2 linked regions of the Homo sapiens genome follow. The protein of the gene in region 1 purifies or fractionates together with the protein of each later gene. This does not show direct contact. Each region holds a gene or a part of one and is shown in the gene's direction. Other genes may lie near its edges.

Region 1 (3,653 bases):
TAAAGGATGGCATCATCCTCTGCGAGTGAGTTACAGCCCTCCAGAATCTGTTTCTGCTCTTCCAGTTCTTTCCACAGCCTTCTCTCTCACTCTCCTTCTCAGCCCAGGGTGTCAGACCTTGATATTCTACAGATATCTTTAATGCTTTCCCTTACTGATGCTAAAGGGAGCAACTTGATATTTCAATCCTTGTTTTTGTGTGCCAGTAAATAAGATGTCTCTCATATTTTTCTTTTCAGACTTATAAACAAGCTACAGCCAGGCTCAGTGAAGAAGGTCAACGAGTCCTCACTGAACTGGCCTCAGGTAACAGCCAAACCAACCACCTCTGGTTCTAGTTGGTTGCATTTTATGTAGTGAAAACTTGATTTCAGGTTTGGTTTTTTGGTTTTGTGTTTTTTTTTTTTTTAACTTTTTGATTACGGTTTTTACATAGACATTGTAGCAGAAATTTGTGCATATTTAATTTTTTGCCCTTTTGTAATGGTTCTGTAATTACTTATTTAACTAGTTCTGTAATTATTACGTTTAGCTTAGAAGTTTTCCTATATTTAGTCTGTGTACATTCAGAAAGGACTTGACACAGCTTACACAGAGAAATGCAACCCAGACCTTAAGGATAAGGGAAAAAACAAGGCATTCCACATAACTAACAGTGGACTGCAGAGCACTGTATCAGACATAACCTTAGTTCATGAGTGTGTATGAGGAAGGAAAATGGGATACTTACTGGTCTTGAACATGTGTTTGGAGATATGAGAGAATGAGTATTTAGTAACCACAAATGTATTCTGAAATTAAAATAACACATAATGAATTATTTATTAGTATGAGTAATTATACACCTTTTGACAAATAAAATTCCAGGCCTGGATAGCTCTGATACAGAATCCTTTTAAAATATATAAGGAAGATCTTGCCCATAAAAACTGAAAACACGTAACTGCTTAAAAATATTAAGACTGTGATGTGACCCACAGTGAGAGACACACTCTCTTCTTGCTCTTTCCTGTTCCAGAGAGAGCCATGCTTAGTATGTATTTGGTTGAATCCTTGTCAAACAGCTTTCTGGGCAGCGTCTTATAACTGTTTATGAAGACTTGGAATTCTTAGAAATTATGAATGTCAATATTTAGCTCCAGAAATTATAAAACTCTTCTTCTTTATAGTTGGAGAATATTGGCAACTTTATTAAAGCTATTCAGGCTTATGGTATGAAGCCACATGACATATTCGAAGCAAATGATCTTTTTGAGAATGGAAACATGACCCAGGTTCAGACTACTCTGGTGGCTCTAGCAGGTCTGGTACGTACATGTCTTTAATGGCTGGTTAACAGATTCCCACCACATTGGTGATGAATTGCATCATTGCTTTTTCATGGGGGTTCAGACCAGGTGGGGCGGGGCCTGTCTCTTCTGTAATTAGTAGCTTTGTGGAAAGGCTGCTGACATCAGCTGCATCGTACTAGATAGCTTACTTAGAACACTCACATTTCAAATGATGCAGTATATTATTGAACAGCCTTAAATACTTTTTATCTCTAGTTTGGGCCCCTTTGTCTATGGACATATCATTTCTTTGTTGTTCCTTCTGTGAAACTCTGTTGGCCTTTTCAGTTAGTGTGCATGTTTCTGTCTAGGCTAAAACAAAAGGATTCCATACAACCATTGACATTGGAGTTAAGTATGCAGAAAAACAAACAAGACGTTTTGATGAAGGAAAATTAAAAGCTGGCCAAAGTGTAATTGGTCTGCAGGTAAGTAATGTGGTGTTGCTTATTCAATTACTTATTCAATATGATTAATTCTCACCATGCAAAATATTAAGCCTCTCCTAAGAATAGACAGAAGTACTATAGTACTGGGGGGGGGGTGTAGTTTATACAATTTATATCTATTTATAAAGCCCATAAGACAGTGATAATTTTTTAGAGGAAACCTCAGGTATGCCACCTGACTTGACAATTATTTCTCCAGGAAACGAAAATTTTTAATTGAATCATATTGTCTTTTTTTTTTTTTTAAAAAAGAAAAATACACTTTTAAATTTTTTATTTTATCTTTTTTTTTTTGAGACAGAGTCTCACTCTTTTGCCCAGGCTGGAGTGCAGTGACGCGATCTCGGCTCACTGTAACCTCCACCTCCTGGGTTCAAGCAATTCTCCTGCCTCAGCCTGCCAAGTAGCTGGGATTATGGGAATGAGCCACCATGCCCGGCTAAGTTTTGTAGTTTTAGTAGAGATAGGATTTCACCATGTTGGCCAGGCTGGTCTTGAACTCCTGACCTCAGGTGATCTGCCCACCTCGGCCTCCCAAAGTGCTTGGATTACAGGCGTGAACTACTGCACCTGGCCTGTTTTATCTTTTATATATAGATGGGATCTCACTTTGTTGCCCAGGATAGTCTCAAACTCTGGAGCTCAAGCAGTCCTCCTGCCTTGGCCTCCCGAAGTGCTGAGATTACAGGCATGAGCTACCACACCCAGCCAGAAATGTACTTTATAAATTCCTTAATGTTATTGACCAAATTAGGCAATTTTACACGACCTTAATGCCAAAGTCACTTATTTACAGTACCAAATCATGATATAGCAGCCAAGCCCTGTTAGAATTTGTCAGTTTAAATTCTTCTGAAATACGTAGTTCAGATGTTTTCCTTCTCTTCATTGTTCTCTTCACTGGTCATGGAAACGTCATTGCTAATTCCCCAAATGCTGTTGGCTTTACTCTCCAAAAGCCACTGTACCTGCTTGATACAGTGCCCCTTTCTACTGAGTCTATGCAAGTTAGATTTATTTTTACACAGTACAAAATTGTATTGGTGGTGAGAAACTGGAAACCTAAATTTCAGAACAGTAGTCAGTTGGTTGAATTACAACTCCATAAAAGCAAAGTGTAATGTAAAATTATACACTAGAGTTTGAAAAGATAGGTTATGGGGGAAAAAAATCAGATCATCAAATACTGTGGTCAGTATGGATTTTTAAAATTAAAAATGCACATGTTTTTGTATGTATTTGTATATATGTGCATCTATAGATATATACATAGACACATAGGTTAAAAAGCTAAAAGGATATTCACAAATGTTGACAGTGAATGGATGGTGGTATCACAATGATTTTTCCCCCCTCCTTTTTGCTTATATGTGTTTTCTGAATTTTCTTCAATGAACAGATTTTATATTAGTAATAAAGATTTTCTTTAATCTTATTTTTAAAGAAAAAAGATCCAACATCAGAAAAGTGTGCCTAACCAGTGGAACAGGGTGTAATGGTTGGTCCTGAAGCCATACTGTTCTCAGTGGGGAAGAAAAATTAATTATTGTTTCCCTGAACTTTGCTGAGTTCAAATTCCTCATTCCACCTTTCTCCAGCTCTGTCCAAGGACATGGGAGTTACAGGAATAAAATGTGGTTCCTTTCTGGAGAAAATGTTGGTGATTTTGAAACTTTAAAAAGCCCTTGTTAAGCTCCCAGAGAAAACACTTGGCATTTGCTTTCACATTTTATGTAAAACATTCCTGGAGTAGAACAGCATATTGCTTGGCCTAGGATTACTTCTGTTGAAATAACCGAAGCTGGTACCTCTTAATTTGGTTATCTGGGGAAAGAGTAGCAGAGGAAATTATTCTGCCACTGTAATGACTTTT
Region 2 (3,826 bases), on another chromosome or scaffold:
GAGCAGCAAGGTCCTAGAGCTCTTTGTGTATGAAGAAGATACTACTGACCCAGTGCCTCGCTATCTTGAAAGGCAGCTGTGACCTTTCTAGCAACTGAGGGGGTGGGGACTAGAAACGAGTGTTTTCTGGTGTTTCTCTAATAAAGCTGCTGTCTTGTATCCAGATTGACCATCAGTATCCTTATGCCCTTCAACTAACTTGAAATTTGTCAGTTAACAGAAATTACTGGGTGGCACTAAAATAAATTATTCTTAATATAAAGGGTAAGAAAGGGTCGGGTGTGGTGGCTCATGCCTGTAATCCCAGCACTTTGGGAGGCCAAGGTGGGCAGATCACCTGAGATCAGGACTTTGAGACCAGCCTGGCCAACATGGCAAAAACCCGTCTCTACTAACAATAAAAAAAAAAAATTAGCCGGGTGTGGTGGTGGGTTCCTGTAATCCCAGCTACTTGGGAAGCTGAGGCAGGAGAATCGCTTGAACCCGGGAGGCGGAGGTTGCAGTGAGCTGAGATTGTGCCATTGCACTCCAGCCTGGGGGACAAGAGCGAAACTCCATCTCAAAAAAAAAAAAAAAAAAAAGAGTAAGAAAGGATCTTCCATTGTAATCATACTATCATTGCCTTTTGAAACAATTTGGAACCTGATTACAAAGTTGAAAATCCCCATCTGTATGAAGAAAAGCTTCACTGGCTGGTCACCTTGGCTCAACGCCTGTAATCCCAGCACTTTGTGAGGCTGAGGCGGGTGGATCACAAGGTCAGGAGTTTGAGACCAGTCTGGCCAACATGGTGAAACCCCATCTCTACTAAAAATACAAAAATAAAAAATTAGCCAGGTGTGGTGGCAAACACCTGTAGCTACTCAGGAGGCTGAGTCAGGAGAATCGCTTGTGCCCGGGAGGCAGAGGTTGCAGTGAGCCGAGATCATGCCGCTGTACTCCAGCCTGTGCGACAGGGCAAGACACCATCTCCAAAAAAAAAAGCTTCACTGTGAGTTATGATATGGGAAGAAAAGTCTTGGCCTGGCCACCACAAGGAATCCCTCAGGCCTGGCGGTGGGAAGCAGAGGAGGGCGCAGTCTCTTTAGGGCAGAAAGTGAAGAACATTTCTATGACAATGGGGAAATCAGTTCACCTTTGTGTTGGTAAACAAAAGGAATGTAAGCTGTCCTTTGAGCTCGAATCATAGTGGTGATTGCCAAAACCTACCTTTGTTTTTAGAAGATAATAGCACATATTCCACTTGCTTCCCCACAGTGACCGAAGCTGGCTTTGGTGCTGACATCGGAATGGAGAAATTCTTCAACATCAAGTGCCGAGCTTCCGGCTTGGTGCCCAACGTGGTTGTGTTAGTGGCAACGGTGCGAGCTCTGAAGATGCATGGAGGCGGGCCAAGTGTAAGTGCCCACACCGCCTTCCTAATACCAAAGAAATTTCATTATGTTAAAACAGAATTGAGCATTTGAAAAATTCCTGCCCATTTAATGACTATAGTTTTCTAGAGTATTTTTCTTAAAACTTTTTTTTTCCTGTAGACCTCCCTCGTGGACATCTAAAACGTTTTTTGTTTTGTGTTGTTTTTTGTTTTTTCCCAACACCACCATAGGGCACTTTGAGTTTAGTAAGTTCGAGTAAACAGTAACACCCACAGTTCTTTCTAAACAATATTTTGGAAAGGAGCATAATGCAACCACTTTTTAGTCTCAAGCTTCACATCTGATACTCAGGCCAAGATTGTATAACCATATGGTAATGGGAGGTTAGAGGCTCTTGTCCCTGAACGAAGAACAAGAGGATTAGAGTGAGTTCTTTGATGACAGAGATTTTTCATTGTTTGTACAGATAGTTTTTCGGTTCACTGATGCTGCAACTCATCAGATTTCATCTAAAACTATTTTCCTTCTCTTTCTGTTTATTATGATTTCTCCTCACAACTCTGTTATAATACTGGATTGTTTCTAAGAGCTTTGCTTGGAAAACACAAATTCGATTTTAACTTCTTTAAAGACTTTTTATATTTACCTATCCTAATATATATAGAAATTACAGACATTATAAAGGAAATATATTCCTTTCCACAGAAAACCTGTGCATAGATTTTTGGGGGTTTTTTTGTTGTTGTTTGCTTGTTTGTTGTTTTTTTGTTTCATTTTTAGGAATTTCCAAGTGGAGAATAAGACATTTTATACTGATTAATCATTTTGAAATAAAATAAAATTTCTCTATCATAATATTCACATATGAGACGAACTGCCAAATCTGATTTCTTAATTGGTATACTGTACTGTGTATGTGACAAAAGTCATATATTCAATGATTATTGCATAGTCAAAACAAGTAGCAGGTTTGCCATCATGAAACGCTGTAAAGCAATTCTTTCTCCTGGGAGAGGTGGACATGATTTTTATACCATTTTACAGATAAGGAAGCTGAGTTTTGATAGGCTTAGGGAATATGGACAATGTCAGCAGGCCAGCAGAGAGCCGAGAACTTCAGATCTAAATCTCCTACTATGTCCACCATGCAGAGCTGGATGTTAATGAAGGGCAGAAGTTTTCTAAATCCAAATCCACTCCTAATACCCGACACTTAAGCACTTCATTTTTGCCTAAAGCTTCATCATCATTTCAAATGCAAGAATGATATAATACAGATTAAAAGTAGTAAATCATAAAGAATTCTGACTTCACTCAAAACACCCCTTGTTGCTACAGTCCTTCCTGGATTTTAGACATTGAATCTGTATAACAACTTCTATTTTTAAAAACTACTTCCGCCCATGTAGGATGCATTTGGAATTCTCCCTCCCTGCCCTGCCACCCTGAAAATTATAGAAAGGGCTTAGAGATTGTCTGATCTCATTCAGTCTTTATAAAGAGAAAATCTCTGAGGCACAGGGAGACGCAGTGACTTGAGTGGTGTCACACATCTATTTCAGGGACTGATCAGATCTACAGTCCTGGTCTCTTGACATCAGTCCCATAGTTTTCCAGACTCTGGTCTCTGTCCTGTAAAAATTCTCTACATGGTTTACAATCCTATTTCATTCATCTTAACATATGTGCTCTGTTATTCAGTGGTTGCACTTTCGTGCCACATTAATCCTTTGTGTCTCTTCCACTGCTGCTTAATGTCATGGTTCTCAGCCAGTGATCATGGTAACATGGAACAGGGTTAGTAGGCACAGATATGGGTGGAGGATAAGAAAAGGTGGGGACCAGCCAGGCGTGGTGGCTCATGCCTGTAATCCCAGCACTTTGGAGGCTGAGGCAGGTGGATCACCTGAGGAGTTCAAGACCAGTGGTGGCGGGCGCCTGTAATTCCCACTACTCAGGAGGCTGAGGCAAGAGAATCGCTTGAACTTGGGAGGCAGAGGTTGCAGTGATCTGAGATTGCACCATTGCACTCCAGCCTGGGTGACAAGAACAAAAGTCCATCTCAACAACAACAACAACAACAAAAAAAAAAAAAAAAAAAAAAAAAAAAAAAACCAGCAGGGACCAGGAAGCCCTGTGAAGCTAGGCATCCCTCTCCTGGGCTCCAGTAGTACCTTCTGCCTCACATTGTTTCATGAATGCCTTGTTCTGTGTCTCCCTATGTAATTCTCAATTCCTTGAGTTTAGGGACTGTGTCTTATTAATTGGTATGGTCCAAGTGTCTGGCATGGTCTATATGCAGGGAGTGTTTTCAATAATGGCAAGATAAATGAACTTTCATCCTCTTAATCCTCTATTCCATAGTGCTCATCTCGGTGTCCTTCCTTCATATTGAATAGCTCTGTATTTTTGAACCATGATTATTCATTTCTACTTCTGTTTTCTTTTTT

The links.
Region 2: the proteins of CNN3 (region 1) and MTHFD1L fractionate together in Homo sapiens (co-fractionation; one large-scale study listed by BioGRID). This does not show direct contact.

Annotation. Positions count from the first base shown.
Region 1 is NC_000001.11:94,899,775-94,903,427, reverse strand, and holds part of CNN3 (calponin-3), read left to right. Parts: coding exon 1-25; intron 26-239; coding exon 240-306; intron 307-1,169; coding exon 1,170-1,307; intron 1,308-1,642; coding exon 1,643-1,759; intron 1,760-3,653. UniProt on the Homo sapiens protein: Thin filament-associated protein that is implicated in the regulation and modulation of smooth muscle contraction. It is capable of binding to actin, calmodulin and tropomyosin. The interaction of calponin with actin inhibits the actomyosin Mg-ATPase activity.
Region 2 is NC_000006.12:151,008,562-151,012,387, forward strand, and holds part of MTHFD1L (monofunctional C1-tetrahydrofolate synthase, mitochondrial isoform 2 precursor), read left to right. Parts: intron 1-1,257; coding exon 1,258-1,397; intron 1,398-3,826. UniProt on the Homo sapiens protein: May provide the missing metabolic reaction required to link the mitochondria and the cytoplasm in the mammalian model of one-carbon folate metabolism complementing thus the enzymatic activities of MTHFD2.